Regions from separate parts of the Homo sapiens genome. Here regions 2 and 3 are each linked to region 1. Evidence: fine-mapped expression QTL. A gene starts in region 1. Each other region holds a variant in brackets. All regions are shown on one strand. Distances are between the middles of the regions.

Region 1 (6,742 bases):
TTATTTGCACATTTATTTTTATTTTTAGGAAAAAGATTCTTTCAGCACATGATGAAACAAAGAAAATATCTTCTGTTGTTAGCTTTGCTTTTATGAATAGTTTGTTTTTTAACTGCAAATTCATCTTGCACTAATGGATGGTCTGGTAAACAGATTATCTGCTCATCAGTAGACTGTCTGGCTCTATATGGTTTAGTTATCATAGTTTGGAAAGGCAGCAACTTGCTGTTACTTTTTTCCCCTAGCCTCCAAATCTGCAGTGAAGAGTGGCTTCAACACAGCACCTGCTAAAATTTTCACAGGAATCTGCTATTTACTGATGGACTCTGCACTTTGGGGAGCTATAGAGATAACATTATCTCTTCGCTGTTTCTTATCTTATAACTTTGTAGCAGAGGAAATCAATGAATGTTAGTATCTGTTAATATCTGCCTTTGTTAATGTAAGCATTAGAAACTTGTACTTTCTGGGTGAAACTACTGAAGTCTTGGATTTTTTTAAATTCCAAGTTGCCAAAGAGGAAAGAGGGAGAATACTTAGTCATTTTATATCCACAGCCCTCTACCCTGCTCCTTGCTTGTAAATCCCCACTTGGCCTTTTAAGAGTTGAAATAGAGTCCAATCTCTCTCTCCTCCTGCAAGACCTGGTTGCAGTGGTTCTGATCACCATGGACCCCCTTGAATAAAGCCTGCCTTATTATCTTCAACAACTTTAATGACTAACTTTTTATTCACTAACTCTCCCTCTTAACTTTCTCTACCATGTTCATCAGACATGCAGTTAGTAAGGCATGTATAATGAAATGTAAATACATTTGGCACTAACATCCAGTGTTATTATGTTTATAGGTCTACATTTCTACACTTTTTAGAATTTATCTCTATTTTGTAGCTATTCCTGAAATGATGTTGAAGTAGAACAACAACAACAAAGTCTTTGATCTGACTATTTTTTTTTTTTCAGACAGAGTTTTGCTCTTGTTGCCCAGGCTGGAGTGCAGTGGCGCGAATTCGGGTCACTGCAACCTCCCTCCTTCTCCCAGGTTCAAGCGATTCTCCTGCCTCACCCTCCAAAGTGGCTGGGATTACAAGCATATGCCACCATGCCCGACTAATCTTGTATTTTTATTAGAGACGGGGTTTTGCCATGTTGGCCAGGATGGTTTCGAACCCCTGACCTCAGATGATCCACCCGCCTCGGCCTCCCAAAGTGCTGAGATTACAGGCGTGAGCCACTGCGCCCGGCTAATCTGACTACTTTTTAAGGAGGTTCAAACTTCAGAAATAACTGTAAATATTTGTTCAAATAAGAGAAATATTTAGTCTAAAATATAAATCAAAGAAAGGGTACGTACAGATTAAGCAGTGTTTGCTGTAAAAAATGTACACATTTATTGTCTAATAATACATCAGTATTAAAACTCAGTTATGTTTCCTTTATTGTACTCCACAATTATAACCATTTACAATTATTGGTAGTTTAAATAACTGAGATAAATACTGTAATTATGTAGACTTCATTACTTGAATATTTAAGAAACAATTTTCTTCCCAGATGTAAATTTTTATATTACCTTTATTGTTTTAATTTTACTTTTTCTGTTTCATTCTTAGATTCAGGGAAAAATATTAAATTATTTCATTATCACCTTGGAGCCACATTGCTAAATAGTTCAGATATTACAAATCTTTAGCCAAGACCAAATTGTGTTTTTTTTTTCAATTTATAGCCCAATTATTAATATTTAGAGACCATGTTTCTTTTATGCAGTTCTTGGTATCATCTTTTTCTATAGCACTACATTTTACACAGTTATTTCTTGCCTTTTACGGCTGGGAATCAAAACACATACGAACTTCAATTTTGTTGTAATAAACGTTAAAATTTGTGAACATTTTTAGTACTTCAGTAAAAAGCTCACTCATTGGCAGAAGCGTTCCCCAGATCAGGAAAAAAGGAATTAGGATTATCTATGACCACAAAGTAACATTAATTAATAGCAGTCTTTGGGAGCAAGCAGCAGCGCCTTTAAATCTTAGATTCTCTTGTGTCTGCAAATTATCTTTTATCTTTCAGCTGTGAAATTTTGTCTATGAAGTAATACCACGAGCAAATTAGCAATAGGATTGCAAGGTTTTTATAGTCCCGTGCTGTAGAACAATTGGCAGTAATTTGAAAAAGACCGTCCATAACGCTGTTTTTGGTCTGCGGCTAAATTTGCAATTGCATAGTTTCATTAAGGAGAACTGGAAAGAGGGCCCAGAAGTTGTTCTAGCAATCGGCAGCAGTTTATCTATTTTAAATCGTAATGCATACTTTTTTTTTCCTCCTACTGAAAACAATGGCAGATATGCTAAAGGGAAGGACACATTCTTGAACTGCTAAATGGTTTTTCCAGATAGCCATTTACGGAGTGCACTCAATTGCCACTATCTGGCTGAAAGCAAAAGCACACACGACGGCCCCTTTTCTTTTTTCCCTTTGCAAAGCGAAACAGTCTAGACGTGTTCACGTGATGTGAATGACGTCAGCCCCCGCCGGGTCGCGTGACCGACACCCAGCCTTCCTACTACCTCCCCCTGACCGCCAGAGTGGGAAATATCGCGAGAATTCGCCTTACTATCAGAACTTACTGAGGTTGCAGGGGAGTTACTCAGAAGGGAAGGGAAGGTGTGGTTGTGCGGCGGAGTTTTTGCTTTCATTCTTTTAACGTTCACAGCCAAAGCAAAGGCCTTTGGGGATTGCCAGAGTCTCAGCCACCATCCTGGAAAACAGCGGGGGAGGTGGGCCTGGAGGTGGCAAGTGTAATGTGGCTCAGGGGCCGTCATTGCCCCTTGCAGAAGGGGCTGCGGGGGAGGGAGAAAACCTGCGCCCGGTTCTGGGGAGCTGGCGACGCAGTGAACCCTGCTGAGGCTGGGTTTTGCCCCGACAGTCGCTGGTGGCTGTGGGAAGGGTTGGGACCCTTCTCTGAGAGCAGTGAACAGCCCACATCCGGCCCCTGCTGTGTCAACTCTGAGCGGCGTGGAGATGAAGTGGTTGCTCTCCCTTGCTCGGCCCACCGGGTGTCGTGGCCCGGGAACCGGCCTGGAGAAGTCCCTGCTGCCCGGCGCCCAAAACAGGGGCGTGGGCTTCCGCGACCCAGGGCGGCTGCCCCGGGCCATCCTCGAGTTGCCCTGCATCTTCCCGCTCAGTCAGCCCCAGATTGAGGCAGCCTTCTCTGTGCGGGTTTAAATGGGTAACTGTGACTTCTCGCCTCATTCACCCAAACCTCCAGTCTTCTCCCCCGCACATCCTCCTCCACCCACCTGGTTTCTCCCTAGACTGGTGTGCTCGTGTGTGCAACCAAAGGAGGGAGTGCGAGAGATCCACGAAGGGACAGGCTTGGAGTCGCTAGAGGGAGGTGTGGGACCAGCGAGGAGGGGGCTTCGCCAGGGAGGGGGTGCTGGCAGGCGGAGGGAGCGGCGGGAGGAGGCGCCGGAGGAGGAGACGGAGGCCTGGGGACGGCAGAAGAGGCTTCGCCTGAGCCGAGCGCTCTTTCTCTCGCCGCGCCGTCTTGAAGCCGCGCGGGCTCGTGAGCAGCGCGAGGCCGCCAAGGTGCCTCGCTTCGCCGGAGCCGCTGCCGCCCGCCGGAGGGAAGCCGGCCTCGGGCGCGCACGCTCGTCGGAGCCCCGGCGCGCCCCGCGCCTGAGCCTGCTGACAGCGGCCGCTGGGCTCAGGCTGTCCGCTCTGGGCTCCGCGGCCTCGGCCCCGCTGCACTCCACCTCCGCCCCCTCGGACTCCCTCCCCTCTGCTTCTACTCCTCCTGCTCCAGTGCGGATCGTTTCGCAACTGCTTGCCACTCGTCCCGTGCCTGGCTGTTTTTCCATTTCCCGGCCCCCTCTTCTTGAGTACTTTACCCCCTGCATTTGGGGACAGGGACTGGAAAAGGGGCGGGTGGAGCGTCCAGTGGAGAAGAAGGAAGCGAGGCCCGCAGGAGGAGGAGGATCGGCGGACTGTGGGGAGGAGACCCCACGCCACCCTTTCTGGTCATCTCCCCTCCCGCCCCGCCCCTGCGCACACTCCCTCGCGGGCGAGCTACTTTCGGACCAGGAAAGTAAGAGCGGCCCTGGGTGACAGCGCCGCGGGGCCAGTCCCGGGGTTAGCCGCGCGTCTGCTCGCTTCTGGTCCGTCGCGCTCCCAGCCAGGGCACAGCCCGGACCGAGGATGGCTTCGACCACAACCTGCACCAGGTTCACGGACGAGTATCAGCTTTTCGAGGAGCTTGGAAAGTAAGCACCTTTGCCCGGCATCCGCATATCCCCTTTCCAGCTGAGGGCGGGTCGCGTTGCCCCCGACCCACCGGCCTCCGTCTTGGGGCGAGGGAGTTTGGGAGAGGAATGGGAGGAGGGCCCCTGGTTTGTCAGCTCTGGGGAAGGTGCTGTCTTAATAAAGGGAGGGAGCACAGAAGGGGTAGGACCCTTACTCCAACTGTGGCTCATTTTGATGGTCCCTAGCCCACCTTCTCCCGGTCCCCCACCCTCCTGCACTGAGAGACTTAGTGAATTTACGATCTCTGCAGTTGTAGCTATCATCCTGAGAAGTGTGCGCGCGCGCCTGTGTGTAATGTGTGTTTGGAGAGGAAATTAGAACCCATGTAAAATGCAACATAGATCATGTTTTCTGTAAATAGAGATGCCTCCTGGTTAGCCGGCGTGTCGGCCGTATGACCCAGGTACTGATGAGAACTCACAGCCTCAGACGGTGCCATATTTATTGATGCCGAAAGTTCAACTTGGCATAGAGTCTATTTCGCATCCAGTAGTTGTTCTGTCCAGGAAAAGGGCCACCCAACAGAACCCAACCCCTTGCCCTATATCCAGTGTTGTTCTTTGCACCAGATTACCGCTCACCATCATTCTTCCTAGGATTTACGTGTGCATCTTTGCGTTCTCTGGGAGGATTTATTTATACAGGCAACGGAAAAGCCCTCTGGAGACTGAGAGCGCTCTTAAGCGTAGCCTAGCATTGTGTAAAACCACCTCCTTCACCCGACTGGCAGAACTACTTGGAGATGTTAGGGAAGGAGGCAGGAGACCTACTGAGGACTTATGCAAAGGGACCTAGGGGCCAAGCCGTGAATGCTGATTTTTGTAGCATGGAACCCAAACCCAATTCCTCTTTCACTAGTTTCGACTGTTACTTTTATGAAAGGAGTGCGTTTATATGTATGTTGTTGGTTTATACTGTAATTAAAGGAAAGGTAAATATTTTTAAAAGTAATAAAAATTACATATGTATATATTGTCTGGTGTTAAAACATGGAGAATATGTCGGAAGAGCAGCTTAATTCAAATCTCTCCCCTCCCCCAGTCCAAAACAAGGCATAGAGAAATCACCATACCAGGATTTGTTAAACCACACTAATGTGCTCAAGATTTATATTTTAATGAAAATAATCGTCATGTTTACTTACTTGGAACCACATTAATTTTTTGTTTCCTACCAAAATAAGTAGGCAGCAGATTTTTTTGCTGCTCCTCGTCTGCTCTGTTCTGTGCAGGGTTTTTCTCAGAGCATTTGGTGCTGTGAGTGTGAACTGTAAAATGTTTTCAAATTTCTTGTGCAAACAAGAGCGGTCATAATTGGCAGTTCCTTTCATTTTGTTGATTAATAATGTGTGCTCCCAGTTAAATAAAATTTACTTTTATTCTTCAACATTAAAGAAAGTCTGGGTTTCCAGGAAGAATTGTTCATTTACTGGATATTACTGTACTTCACTGGCAATCCACTAAAATCAATAAAAATGCTCAGATTTTATAAATTTTTAATGAAATATTATATCTGTTATATTAATGACCTGCTAATTATTGGTTTCCAGGGGGGCATTCTCAGTGGTGAGAAGATGTATGAAAATTCCTACTGGACAAGAATATGCTGCCAAAATTATCAACACCAAAAAGCTTTCTGCTAGGGGTGGGTATTTTCAACCACATATATTGGTTAATTTTGTATTTGTCATGTTGATTATAGGTTCTGTTGTATGTAAATATATCATGTAGTTATAACTGAACTTTAGACTTAGGTATCATATTATATATTAAGATTATTTTCTTCCTGAATGCTTCTTGGTCTGTACAGCTTAAAAATACATGGAAAGATATAATTATTATTTGATACATTGCTATTAAAATTCTATCTGTCCTATGAGCAATAGCATGAATAACTATATTTTAAAGCAAATAAATGTCAGGTGCATTTTGCTTATAGTTTAAGTATAAAACAACTTTTAGACCATGGAATGGAAAAATATAAGTCTCACAACTGTCATAATTCCCTTTTGCTTTTGAGAGGGAAGTAGGTCATAGCTCAGTTGAATCATACATTTCAATTGTAGTTACACTTGAACTTAATTCATCAAGGTATATTTAACAGTAATAGCTTTGGTAAGAAAATTTATGATTGCTATATTCTAGGAAGTTTAGTTTTATTTTGATGTTTCTGTGTGCAGCTCAGACCTTGGTCTTCGCATTAAGGCTTCACACAGACTCATGTAATGTATTTTACACATGTAGTTTATAGGTACAGAGATAATTCATACTCGTAAAATAGCTGTTGACATAACCAAAAAACTTGGAGGGCTCTCACTGCATTCTTTTTATTTAGTAGAACTCATGCAAAAGTACTTACGCTGAAATGTTAGGCATTCCAATTATTGTGGGCACGTGTCTGAGGTATTTCCATGGGAATTTATGGTATAAAAAT
Region 2 (6,742 bases), 36 kb before region 1:
AATAAGCAAATGAGCCAAACTGCATACTACTACAAATATTTATTGCAATGATTAAGATGCTTATATTCTGAATCATAAAACATAGCCATTAAGCTTTATGGAAATAATCCTGCATAAAGCTCTGTATATCTTCTTACATTTTCATAATTGATGGAAAAATATCATCTAAAATGAAAACTAACAATAAGTTCATAAATCATTCAGTGTTTCCTTTGCCATGCTTTGGGCTAATCATTCATAGAAAGCAACAGATATGTAATGCCTGGTATGTCCAGGGTAACAAATACAAAATATATCTCTTACTTTTATGCCTTCATTTTCATACTTTTGAATTAGATGGCTCCAATGCTAGCATAAATTTTTAAAAATATATCCATCATGCTTCAGACTCTTTCTTAATTATGGCCTGTGGGCCAGTCATCAACAACATTTTTCTTTCCTAGAACATAAGAGGTCTGGATTTTGCATGTCTTTCCTAGAACAGGGAAGCCTGTCTGCCAGCCAATCAGAACCTGCCAGTGGACTCAGTAAGCAGGCCTATTATTTGAATGCTTAGCTTTTCATTACACTAGCTATAAAACAAGAAACATCAAGACAAATAAGAACTTGGATTGGCTGCTAGATTTACTACCCAGCTGCTAAAGAAACCATCAGGATTCACTATATTTCACCATGTTAGCAAGAAACATCAGTCACATTAACAGCCATCTTTAAAAGCAGAGTGAAGCATAACTTACCAGTTCTATCAACGAGCCCTTTAGCTGAACAACTGCATCTGTCTGAGTTCATTTAAAAAAAAAAATTGTCAGTAATTAAATACATCTTGCAAATTTTTTTTTAACAGTTCCAAAAGCAAGGAATTGCTTCAGTTGCCCTTAGTTTATTTCTGGCCATTGTAAACATCTGGATAAGCATAATGTACTCTTAGGAGCTATTGGTATGTTAATCCTCCAGTGGAATTTAAGCAGGGTTTTTTGTGTATTTTTATAGATATATAATATTTGCACATTTTTATGGTGTCTGTGGGTATTTTGTTACATGCATGTAATATAATATGTACTTTGATTATATCGTCACACTTAATTTTATTTTATTTTCCCACTGCCTAAGTCTATTTTGTGCTGCTGTAACAAAATAAAACAGGATGCCACTTTGGGAGGCCGAGGTGGGCGGATCACGGGGTCAGGAGATCAAGACCATCCTGGCTAATACGGTGAAACCCCGTCTCTACTAAAAATACAAAAAATTAGCTGGGCATGGTGGCAGGCGCCTGTAGTCCCAGCTACTGGGGAGGCTGAGGCAAGAGAATGGCGTGAACCTGGGAGGCGGAGCTTGCAGTGAGCCAAGACTGCGCCACTGCACTCCAGCCTGGGCGACAGAGCGAGACTCTGTCTCAAAACAAAACAAAACAAAAACAGAATGGGAGATTTATAATGAATAAAAATGTATTGGCTAACAGTTCTGGAGGCTGGAAAGTCCAATATTAAGGTGCTGGCATCTCGTGAGGGCCTTCTTGCTGTATTATCAAATGGCATAAAGTGAAAGGGCAAAGAGAGGGCAAGAAAGGGCCAAATCAGTCTTTTCATAATGGTATTAATCTCACCCATGAGGGTAGAGCCCTATAGCCTAATCACCTATTAATATCTTAATGATCTTAATATCTTAGTAACCCCAACTGTTAATATAGTTACAATGGCAATTAAGTTTTATCATGAGTTTTGGAGGGGACAAACATTCAAACCATAACACCCACTGTTTTTTTTTATTTTGTTTTGTAAGATGCTAGGTTTGTGTTACCATAGCAGCTACTCTGGAGGTACAGACAATTCTTTCTTTATATTTATTAAATGACTTAAATTCTTGCATTGAGAAACTCTATACAAGCATGCCATGTTTTCATTTGCAAATATTACATGTATGTTACAAATACTAGCTTATATGTTTTAAAATCTTTACCTTGGTTAATGAGGAGAACTTTTAAAAATCCCATTTGAATTAGTGCCTTTCACAGGGAGTGACTTTTGAGTTTACCTTAAAGAATACGTAAGATTCCTCCAGCCATGAAAGGAATATAAAGGCACTGTTGCGTTGGAAAATAACCTAACCAAAGGCCTGGGAGAGCAAAAGTGCCTTGCACAGTCAGGAAGATCTATTTTACATCTAAATATATGCAAATAGAGATAAATCGGAGATAAATCTTAAAAAGTAAGACTGTATGTCATGCAATGGATTTCAAACTTAATTCGTTAGAATTTGAAGAATAGTAGATTTTTTAAACAAGGTAGTAGCATGTTTCAGACAAATCACTGTCTCCTGATAGAGAGAAAAGAGAGATAAATAATGGCAATAGAAAAGGCCATTTAAATTGTTATTCAAACAACAGTGGTGATGGTATTTTGGCCCAAAACATTTCTGAATTTATTTCATCTAATTCTCTGAAACTCTCTCCTCCTAACCAGCATTTTCCTTTTCTTTTAAGCTTGTTTTTGTTCTGACTTTCCATGTAGCTCATTATTTTCAAATTTAAAATAATTAGGACCACAAATAGACTTTTCATCTCCATGAACTTTTTTATATACCCGCCTATGCTAAGTTTATATAATCTGGAAATACTAATATAAATCATTAAGCTTTAGTTCAGTACCTTTTGACAGCTGATTAAACTTTTCTTTTCCTGAATGATAAAGTAATATTCTATTTATACCCAATTCCTGATGCTATACACTTGTATTTAGAAGAAATATGGTTATATTATTTGAATTTTGCCAAAGTAGAGTTTATTTCTTGGACACAGTATAGTTTATCTAATTTGCAAAAGGAATCCTAGGGAAAGATTAGACTCTAACTAAAGCCTATTAAGAAGTCAAACCTCGACAGCTGGCACATCTGTTCCTGTCTTCCCTTCAACTTCTACAGTCTTCCTTCTTTTAAAAAACTCTGTTTTCTTTATTTCATTGATATAGAAGAGATGTAAATATTTTGAGGGTGCATGTGATAATTTTGTATATTTATTTAATTTGTGAAGATTAGATCAGTGTAATTGATCACCTTAAGTCACCTTAAATACTTGTATTTTCTTGATGCTAGAAACATTTAAATTGTTCTCTTCTAGCTAGTTTGAAATATACAATAGATTATTGTAGAACACAGTCACCCTACTAATCTATCAAAAGCTAGATTTATGTCTTCTATTAAACTATATATTTGTATTCATTAGTCAACCTCTCCTCATCCCCTTCTCCCCTCCCCTTTCTGGCTTCTGGTAATCACCAATTTACTCTCTATCTTCATGAGATCCACTTTTTTAGCTCCCATATATAAATGAAAACATGCAATATATTTGTCTTTCTGTGCTTCACTTACTTAACATAATTATCTCCAGTTTCATTCATGTTGCTGCAAATGACAGGATTTCTTTCCTTTTTAATAGCTGAGTAATATTCCATTGTGTATATATGCCACATTTTTTATTCATCCATTGATGGACACTTAAAGATTGATTTCATATTTTGGCTATTGTAAATAGTGCTTCAATAAATGTGGGAGTGTAGATATCTCTTCAATATATTGATATCC[C/T]ATCTTTTGGATATATACCCAGAAGTGAAATTGCTGAATCAAATGGTAGTTCTATTTTTTGTTTTTCTGAGGAAACTTTACAGTGTTTTTCATAGTGGCTGTACTAATTTACATTCCCAAAAACAGTGTACATGTGTTCCTTTTTCTCTGCATCCTAGCCAGCATTCATTATTCCCTATATCTTTGATAAAAGGTATTTTAACTGTGGTGAGATGATATCTTATTTTTGGTTTTGAGTTGCATTTCTCTGATGATCAGAGATGTTGAGCACTTTTTCACATACCTCTTGGCCATTTGTATGGCTTCTCTTGAGAAATGTCTATTCAGAAGTTTTGCCTATTGTTTAATTGGATTATTTGGGTTTTTTTCCACTATTGAGTTGTTTGAGCTCCTTATATATTTTGGTTATTAATCTTTTTTCAGATGGGTAGTTTGCAAATATTTTCTTGCATTCTGTGGGTTTTTTACTGTGTTGATGTGTGTGTGATAAGATTTTTAGTTTGATGTAATCCCATCTGCCCATTTTTTGCTTTGGTTGCCTGTGCTTTTGAGGTCTTACACAAAAAACTTTGCCTAGTACAATATCCTGGAGGATTTCCATGATTTCTTCTAGTAGTTTCATAGTTTGATAGGTCTTAGATTTAAGTCTTCAATGCATATTGATTTGATTTTTTGTATGTGGTGAGACATAGGGGTCTAGTTTCATTCTTCTGCATATGATTATCCAGTTTTCCAGCATCATTTATTAAAGAGACTGTCCTTTCCCTATTGTATGTTCTTGGCATCTTTGTAAAAAATGAGTCGGCTGTAAATACATAAATGTATATCTGGGTTCTCCATTATGTTCCATTGGTCTACGTTTCTGTTTTTATGACTGTAAACCATGTTGTTTTGATTACTATAGCTTTGTAGTATATATATATTTTTAATTTTTTTAGTATTTATTGATCATTCTTGGGTGTTTCTCGGAGAGGGGGATTTGGCAGGGTCATAGGACAATAGTGGAGAGAAGGTCCGCAGATAAACATGTGAACAAAGGTCTCTGGTTTTCCTAGGCAGAGGACCCTGCGGCCTTCCGCAGTGTTTGTGTCCCTGGGTACTTGAGATTAGGGAGTGGTGATGACTCTTAACGAGCATGCTGCCTTCAAGCATCTGTTTAACAAAGCACATCTTGCACCGCCCTTAATCCATTTAACCCTGAGTGGACACAGCACATGTTTCAGAGAGCACAGGGTTGGGGGTAAGGTCACAGATCAACAGGATCCCAAGGCAGAAGAATTTTTCTTAGTACAGAACAAAATGGAGTCTCCTATGTCTACTTCTTTCTACACAGACACAGTAACAATTTGATCTCTCTTTCTTTTCCCCACGTTTCCCCCTTTTCTATTCGACAAAACCGCCATCGTCATCATGGCCTGTTCTCAATGAGCTGTTGGGTACACCTCCCAGACGGGGTGGTGCTGGGCAGAGGGGCCCCTCACTTCCCAGATGTGGTGGCCGGGCAGAGGCGCTCCTCAGTTCCCAGATGGGGTCGCCGCCGGGCAGAGGCGCTCCTCACCTCCCAGACGGGGTGGCGGCCGGGTAGAGACGCTCCTCACCTCCCAGACGGGGGTGGCCGGGCAGAGGCGCCCCTCACATCCCAGACGGGGCGGCCAGGCAGAGGCGCTCCCCACATCCCAGATGATGGGCGGCCAGGCAAAGAGGCTCCTCACTTCCTAGACGGGATGACGGCCAGGAAGAGGCGCTCCTCACTTCCCAGACTGGGCTGCCGGGCAGAGGGGCTCCTCACATCCCAGATGATGGGCAGCCAGGCAGAGACGCTCCTCACTTCCCAGATGGGGTGGCGGCTGGGCAGAGGCTGCAATCTCAGCACTTTGGGAGGCCAAGGCAGGTGGCTGGGAGGTGGAGGTTGTAGCCAGCCGAGATCACGCCACTGCACTCCAGCCTGGGCAACATTGAGCACTGAGTGAGCGAGACTCCGTCTGCAATCCCGGGACATCGGGAGGCCGAGGCGGGCAGATCACTCAAGGTCAGGAGCTGGAGACCAGCCCGGCCAACACGGCGAAACCCCGTGTCCACCAAAAAATACAAAAACCAGTCCGGCGTGGCAGCGCGCGCCTGCAATCCCAGGCACTCGGCAGGCTGAGGCAGGAGAATCAGGCAGGCAGGTTGCAGTGAGCTGAGATGGCAGCAGTACAGTCCAGCCTCGGCAACAGAGGGAGACCATGGAAAGCGGGAGACGGAGACGAGGGAGAGGGGGAGAGAGTGGAAAGCGGGAGACGGAGACGAGGGAGAGTGAGAGGGAGAGGGAGCGGGAGAGGGAGCGGGAGAGGGAGAGGGAGAGCGCTTTGTAGTATATTTTTAAGTCAGGTAGTGTGATGCCTCTAGTTTTGTCATTTATTGCTAAGGAATGCTTTGGCTACTTGGCATCTTTTGTGATTCCATAAAAATGTAAGACTGTTTTTCTATTTCTGTGAAAAATGTCAGTGGTATTTTAATAGGAATTGCACTGAATCTGCAAATTGCTTTGAATTATATTGCCAACTTAACAATATTAATTCTTCCAATCCATGAGCATGGAATATCTTTCCTTTTTTTGTATCCTCTTCAACTTAACTCATCAGTATTTTATATATTTCTTGTGTAGGTGTTTCACTTCTTGGTTAAATTGATTCCTAAGTATTTTGTAGCTATTGTAAATGGAATTATTTATTGGTTTTCACTGTTTCTTGGTGGAATCTTTAGGCTTTTTAAAGTACAATTTTATGTTATCTACGAACAAGGCTAATTGGACTTTTTTTTTTTCCATTTTGGACGCCCTTCATTTTATTTGCCTAATTGCTCTGGTCAGGATTTTCAGTATTATGTTGAATAAAGGTGATGAAAGTGGGCATACTTGTCTTGTTATAGATCTTAGAGGAAAGGCTTTCAATTGTTCCGCATTCAGTCTGATGTTAGCTGTGGATTTGCCATGTTTGGACTTTATTAATTTAAGGTATGTTTCCTTTCTATCCAGATTGTATGGGGTTTTTTCCTAAAGAAATGTCCAATTTTACAAAATGCTTTTGCAGCATCTATTAACATCATTATATGATTCTTTTTTTTTTTTTTTTTTTTTCCTGAGACAGAGTCTCACTCTGTTGCCCAGGCTGGAGTGCAGTTGTGC
Region 3 (6,742 bases), 29 kb before region 1:
TTGATTTTGGGGGGTTTGTAGTCTCAATTTCATTTATTTCTGCTCCGATCTTTATTATTTCTTTCCTTCTACTATTGTTGGATTTGACTTCTTGCCTTTCTAGGTCTTTGAGGTGCATCATCGGATTGTTTATTTGAAGTCTTTCTACTTTTTTTATATAGGCATTTATTGCTATAAACTTGTCTCTTTGCACTGCATTTATTGTATCCCAGAGATTTTAGTATGTTGTGTTTCCATTCTCATTTGTTTCAAGAAAATTTTAAATTTTCTTCTTAATTTTGTCATTGACCCATTGGCGATTCAGGAACATATTGTTTAATTTTCATGTGTTTGTGTAGTTTCTGAGGTTCCTCTTGTTGATTTCTAGTTTTATTCCATTGTGGTCAGGAAAAGATAGTTGTTGTGATTTCTACTTTTCTGAATATGTTAAGACTTTTTTGTGGACTAAGATTTGGTCTATTCTGGAAAATGTTCCATGTGCTTATGAAAAGAATGTGTATTCTGCAGCAGTTGGGTGAAATGTCCTCTAAATGTTAGTTAGAACTATTTGATCTAGTGTGTGGTTTAACTCTGATGTTTCTTTGTTGATTTTCTGTCTGGATGATCTGTCCATTACTGAGAATGATGTGCTGAAGTCCCATACTATGATTGTATTGCAGTCTATCCCTGCCTTTAAATCTATTAATGTTTACTTTATATATTTGGTAGCACCAGTGTTTGGTACGTGGATATTTATAAGTCTTATATTCTTTTGCTAAATTAATCCCTTTATCATTATCTACTGACCTTCTTAGTCTGTTTTGACAGTCTCTGATTTGTAGTCTATTTTATCTGATACATGTACAGCTACTCCTGCTCTTTTTTGGTTTTCAGTTGCCTGGAATATCTTTTTCCACTCCTTCACTTTAAGTCTGTGTGTGTCTTTATAGGTGAAGTGGGTTTCCTATAGGCAGCATATAATTGGGTCTTATTTATTTATTCATTGGGCCACTGTGTTTCTCTTAACTGAAGAATTGAGTCCATTTACATTGTGTTATTACTGATAGGTGAGGACTTAGTACTGCCATTTTGTTGCTTGTTTTCTGGGTGATTTGTAACTCCTTTCTTCTCTGCTTTTTTGTTAAGTGCTTTTCTCTGGTAGCATGTTTTAATTTACTGCTTTTTACATTTAGTGAATAAATATAGGTTTACATTGTGGTTACCATGAGGGTTACAAAAAACATCATATAGGTATGACTATTTTAAATAGTTGACAACTTATCTTAGAGCTCAATGAAAAAAATAGAAACAAACAAAAAGTGGAAAAATCTCTAAACTTTAACTCCATCCCCTCTACCCCAATTTTGGCTTTCTGTTGTCTCAATGTGCATATTTTATATGTCATATATCTTGACAGGTTGTTGTAGTCATCATTGTTTTAAATAGATTTGTCTTTTGGGCTTCATACTAGAGTTATGAATGAATTGCACCTGACAATTACAGTATTAGAGTATTCTGGGTTTTTCTGTACTTAGTTTTACCAGTGAGTTTTATACCTTCATTTTTTTTTATTTTTGTATGTTAGTTTTCTTTTTCTTTCAGATTGAAGAACACCCTTTAGCATTTCTTGTAAGATGAGTCTGGTGGTGGTGAATTCTCCCACCTTTTGTTTGTCTGGTAAAAACTTTATCTCTCCTTCATATTTAAAGGATAACTTAGCTGAATACAGTATTCTTGAATGGCAGAGTTTTTTTTTTTTTTTGCTTTCAACACTTTGAAAATGTCATCTCCCTCCCCACTGGCCTGTATGGTTTCCATTGAGAAGTTGATTGCCACACCAATTAGAGCTCTGTTATATGTTATTTGCTTCTTTTCTCTTGCTGCTTTCTGGATCCTCACTTTGTTCTTGACAAAGAGGTTGATTATTATATGCCTTGAGGTAGTTTTATTTGGGTTGCATCTGTTTAATGTTCTCTGGCTTTCCTGTACCTGGATATTTATCTTTTTCTCAAGATTTGAAAAGTTTTCCGTTATTCTTTCTTTGAATAAGCTTTCTACCCCTTGCTCTTGCTCAAGTCTATCTTGAATGCTGATTGTTCTTAGATTTAGTATTTTGAGGTAATTTTCTTTTTCTATCATCTTTTTCTTTTCTTTTTTACAGGGTCTTGCTCTAACACCTAGGCTGGATTGCAGTGGTTCAATTATCACTCACTGCAGCCTTGACTTCCTAGGCTCAAGCGAGTTGATGTCATTTTTTATATCTTACAGGCAATCTTTGTTTCTTTTCATTCTTTTTTTTTTCTCTTTTCACTATATATTTTCAAATAGCTTATCTTCTAGCTCACTGATTCTTTCCTCTGATTCATTGCACTGTTGAGAGCCTCCAGTGAATTTTTCAACTCAGCAAATGTATTTCTCAGTTTCAAGATTTCTGTTTGATTTTCATCCTATTACTTCAATCTCTTCGTTAAATTTCTTTAATTACTGAATTGCTTTTTTCAGGGGAAAGTCATAGCCCCCTGCTTGCTGTTGTTTCTTGTGTATGTACATCTATGTATTTGCATTGAAAAGTTGGTTATTTATTCCAGTCTTCTTTGTCTGGCTTGCTTTGGTTTTTATTGGATATGTTTCCTTAGGCAGTCTTTATAATTTATTAGATTATTTTCTTTTTGTCCCCCAGGTTGCTGCCTCCTTTTCAACACTAAATGACACCTTCTGCCCAGGTTTGCCTCAATTCTAGTAAGCAATCACCACCCATCCCATATGGGAGAGATCCCAAATGGGATATCCTGGTAGTGTGGGATGGCTTTCTAGGGGTTCATGCTCAGGGTACCTGTGGAACAAACCTCCTACAGCATAGGGCTGCTGAACAGCCACTCTAATTTGCCACCTCCTTTGGCTGAATTAAAAAGCAGAGTTTCCAGGGCTGGGGATGGTAATCCTGCCTCTCTCCTTTGTCTCTGGCTATCCTCAGGACATTTCTTCTTTTAGGCACTCTCAATGCTTCTCATGGGTTGAGACAGGGACATGTCTACTTCCAGGGATCCCCAGATGGTGGAGAATTTGGTTATTCAACTCAATCTTACTTTTTTCAGTTTAGAAACTGTGAGATGGGGGAAATTTTCCATGTACTTGGTTCTGGGCAGATTGGGAAGAGAAGTATCTCAGATATGAAAGGCTAATTCTTTACTTTCTTCTCAGAGTTTTTCAGTTCTCTGTGGCCCCTGAGAACTGTCTCCTTTTCATATTTGTGTTCTTGTATATTGCTGGTGATAATCTTGGTACTGTATATTTGATTTTGGTTTTCTTTTGGGGTAGTAAAGCCAGCTTGCTTCTACACCATCATTTTGGAACTG[G/A]AAGTTTTACAGACTTCCCTCTTTCATCATCAAAGTTCAAAAGGAAAGCAACAAGCACGGCAATATGAGGAAACAGGCCAGAGAACTGAGCTGTAGGTTTGAGGAACTTCTCAGTGGGAAGCTGGTTTTAATTGTGATCTAAATTAAGGAAGACCAAAGGTAGGGCTGGCAACTAGCTATGGAGGTTAATTGGAGTCAGGAAAAGTAAGTTTTAAGGCAGGTATTAGGTCACCATCTGAGGCCTAGGCTCTAAGGCAATAAGTGAGAGATGACTATAATCCAGTACCATAGACAGCTTCATGGACATATAGGGTCTAGGGAGAATGTTATGTCTCACAACAAAGTGACAATTAAAGAAGGACTAGAAAGAAATGGGAAAAGAAAATTATGTCTTGGCTATCTATGTCCTATGCCGAGAAAATGACAACTGCAAAATTAGGTGGGTACTTGGTGAGAGGGAAATAGCAAGGAGGCCAGTAAGGCTGGAACACAGTGAACAAAGTGAGAATAGGAGTAGTTAAATTCAGCGAAGTAACAGGAGGAAGACTATGTAGGGCACTGAAGGTCAGAGAATAGGCTTTGGATTTTACTGAATATAGAAAAAAAATGACATACTCTGACCTATTTTAAAAAATTCACACTGATTGCTAGGTGGAAAAGAGAGACTAGGAGTCTAGAGCACAAGTGGGGAAACCAGTTGAAGGCTTTTACAGTAATTCAGGCAAGATGTATTGTATCTTGAACCAAAGTAGTAGCAATGGAGATATTGAAAAATGGTCAAATTTAAGATACATTTTGAGGTATAACCAACAATATTTGCTGATAGTTTGAATGTGAGATAAAGAAAGGAGGCAAATACAACTTTAGAGTTTTGCTTAAACAACTGCAGAGATGGAATTTTAATTAACTGTATACAGTTATGTGCCATACAACAATGTTTTAGTCAATGATTGACCGCTTATACAATGGTGGTCTCAGAAGATTATATTTACACATGTGTAGATGCAGAAATACTTACCATTGTGTTATAACTGCCTGCAGCACTCACGCTGTTCAGGTTTGTAACTTAGGAGAAATAGGCCATACCATATAGCCCAGATTTATAGTAGGCTGTAACATCTAGGTTTGTATAAGTACACTTTTAGTTTGCACAATTAGGAAATTACCTAAGGACATGGTTCTCAGAACATATCCCCATTGTCAAATGATGCATAACAGAAATTACATACGGACAAGATTACAGAAAGAGCTGATTCTAGTGTTTATTGATAGAGGAATCAGGTGTCTGGTTTAAGACATGTAATGTTTGAAATGTCTATTAGACATTCAAATGGAGACATCAGGTAGATAATTGGACATACAAGAGTGAAATCTAGGCTGGAGTTATGAATCTTGAAATCTATAGCATTTAAAGCAAATTGGATTGAGATCACTTATGGAATGAGTTTACATAGAAAAGAGTGGTATTCTAACAATTGAGCTTTGAGATATTCCAAAGCTTAGAGATTGGAAAAATGAGAGATAACCCACAAAAGAAGGGAAAAGAATGAAAAGTGAGATAGGGGAGAATTTGTTGTCCTAAAGTCCAAGCACAAAAAGTAGTTCAAAAGTGAGAGACTAATTAACTGTGCCTAATTCTGTTGGAAGGGGTCAAGAAATTTGAGAACTGAAAGTAAACTGTTGAAATGAGCAACAAAGAGATCACAAAAGGTCTTGACAAGAGTAGTTTTGGTTAAATGGGGAAGAAAGATTTATGAAGTGGGTTCAAGAGAGAATGAGAAGAGAGGAAATAAAGATGAGTTTAGATAATTATTCCTTGAGTTTTGCTACAAGTAGAGTAGAATATAAACAGAAGATGATATAGGAACAGGGCAGGGTTTTGTAGGTGAGAGATATTACAGTATATGTGCATGTTGATTTAAATTATCCAGTAGAGAATGAAAATTTGATGATATGGAAGGGCAGCAGTGCTGGAATAATTAGATGTGGGAATGTTTTGGCAGTAGCCAGCAACGTTATTGAGGAAGGGAGCTAATGTAATCAGTTACATCGGACTCTTGTCTGTCTCTGAATTCACCCTCATATTAATCAGAATCACTTTATTCCTAGAGTATTAAACTCAAAATTTCTGACACCATCCTAGTATTTCATCTTCAATTTTTAAACTACTATACACACTTTCTCTCCTTGCTACAGCTGTTGTTGTCCCTGTTAATATTGTTAGAAATAAATTTTAACTCATTTTAAGTACCAACATAAATCTTTCTTTTCTCCTTGAAAGATGCCCTCCCCCTCCAGCATCTTTTCCTTTACGATGTCACCAACATGATAAAATGTAAAGAAAAGAGAAATATGTTCGGAGCGCCTTTGGTGACAGCATATTTAAAATCTATTCTTTCTGTTTTGTTGCAAGTAGAATTGAAAAGGGTATTGATTGCTCACAGAATCCCTAGGAAAGAAAATTGAGAAAGAATGCCCAAAATCATGTTGCATAACCAATTTGTGGAAGATACCACTCTGCAACCAATCCACCTAGCACTTTTGTTGGACTATGTCCCAGGGCCACTGCTGCTCCCAGCAGTGCTATCTTCCCCAAGTCCCTACTTGGGGAAGGAAATTCTTAACATGATCATGGCTGAGGGTTATGTATCTTTCTAGTGAAGTTCACATCAGCAGCAAAGGAGGCCAAGAAAGCAAGTGTCTAGTATTTTCAACTACTTTACTGGGAAGAAGGCCCACTTCTAAGTGTTTTAACTGACCAAGTTTCTGATTCCTATCACCACAGAGTTCCATCAGTCTAATTTTTGTAAATCTCATTGACATCTATCCTAGAAAGTATAAATGATGTATATATATCTTGTTGTTGTTAAGTCCTTGGTAAAATTTAGAATGTCTTAAAGTTTTCCATATTATCTTCCTATTAGGAAGGGAATATTTCCTTTAGAAGGGGAATACTTTCCAAACATGCTATATCTATAGAATACATTTTTGATCACCTACCATGTATCAGGTAGATACTAGTGATAAAATGCCAACACACTTTTCCTATTATCAAAAAGAGAGTTTATTGAGATATACAAGAATAAACATAATACTGTAAAACAAAGTGTGCTTAGGTGGTAGATGAAGAAGGACAGAAATTAACATTTATTGAGTGGTTACTCTGAATCTGACATGATGTCAGGCACTTATTTCATTTATTATCATAGCAATCTTCTATATTAAATATTATGAGAGAGGTTAAATGACATGAATTTAATCCATACAGGTAGTATGTGATGGAGCTGGGATGCAAATCTAAGCACTTCCTTTTCAGAAACATGTAGGTAGGAAAATTGTCTAGCTCTCTACTCATCAGTCCCCTATTCCATTCAGGTCTCACCTGCCGCTAAGTACCCATTCATTCA

Evidence for each region.
Region 2: its variant is fine-mapped to the expression of CAMK2D in whole blood (INTERVAL, PIP above 0.99). The same link has a PIP of 0.9 or more in monocytes.
Region 3: its variant is fine-mapped to the expression of CAMK2D in whole blood (TOPMed, PIP above 0.99).

The regions. Positions count from the first base shown.
Region 1 is chr4:113,758,531-113,765,272 of GRCh38, reverse strand. It overlaps CAMK2D (calcium/calmodulin dependent protein kinase II delta), which reads left to right and starts at 3,535. Exons shown (of 21, transcript NM_001321571.2): 1 at 3,535-4,269; 2 at 5,859-5,953. The coding sequence starts at 4,205. RefSeq lists enhancers at 2,268-2,806, 2,807-3,345 and a silencer at 3,339-3,748.
Region 2 is chr4:113,795,007-113,801,748 of GRCh38, reverse strand. No RefSeq gene overlaps it. Among named protein-coding and RNA genes, the nearest start is that of CAMK2D, 37 kb to the right of the region's middle. The variant C/T (reference allele first, on the strand shown) is at 3,577.
Region 3 is chr4:113,787,342-113,794,083 of GRCh38, reverse strand. No RefSeq gene overlaps it. Among named protein-coding and RNA genes, the nearest start is that of CAMK2D, 29 kb to the right of the region's middle. RefSeq lists a silencer at 4,952-5,011. The variant G/A (reference allele first, on the strand shown) is at 3,336.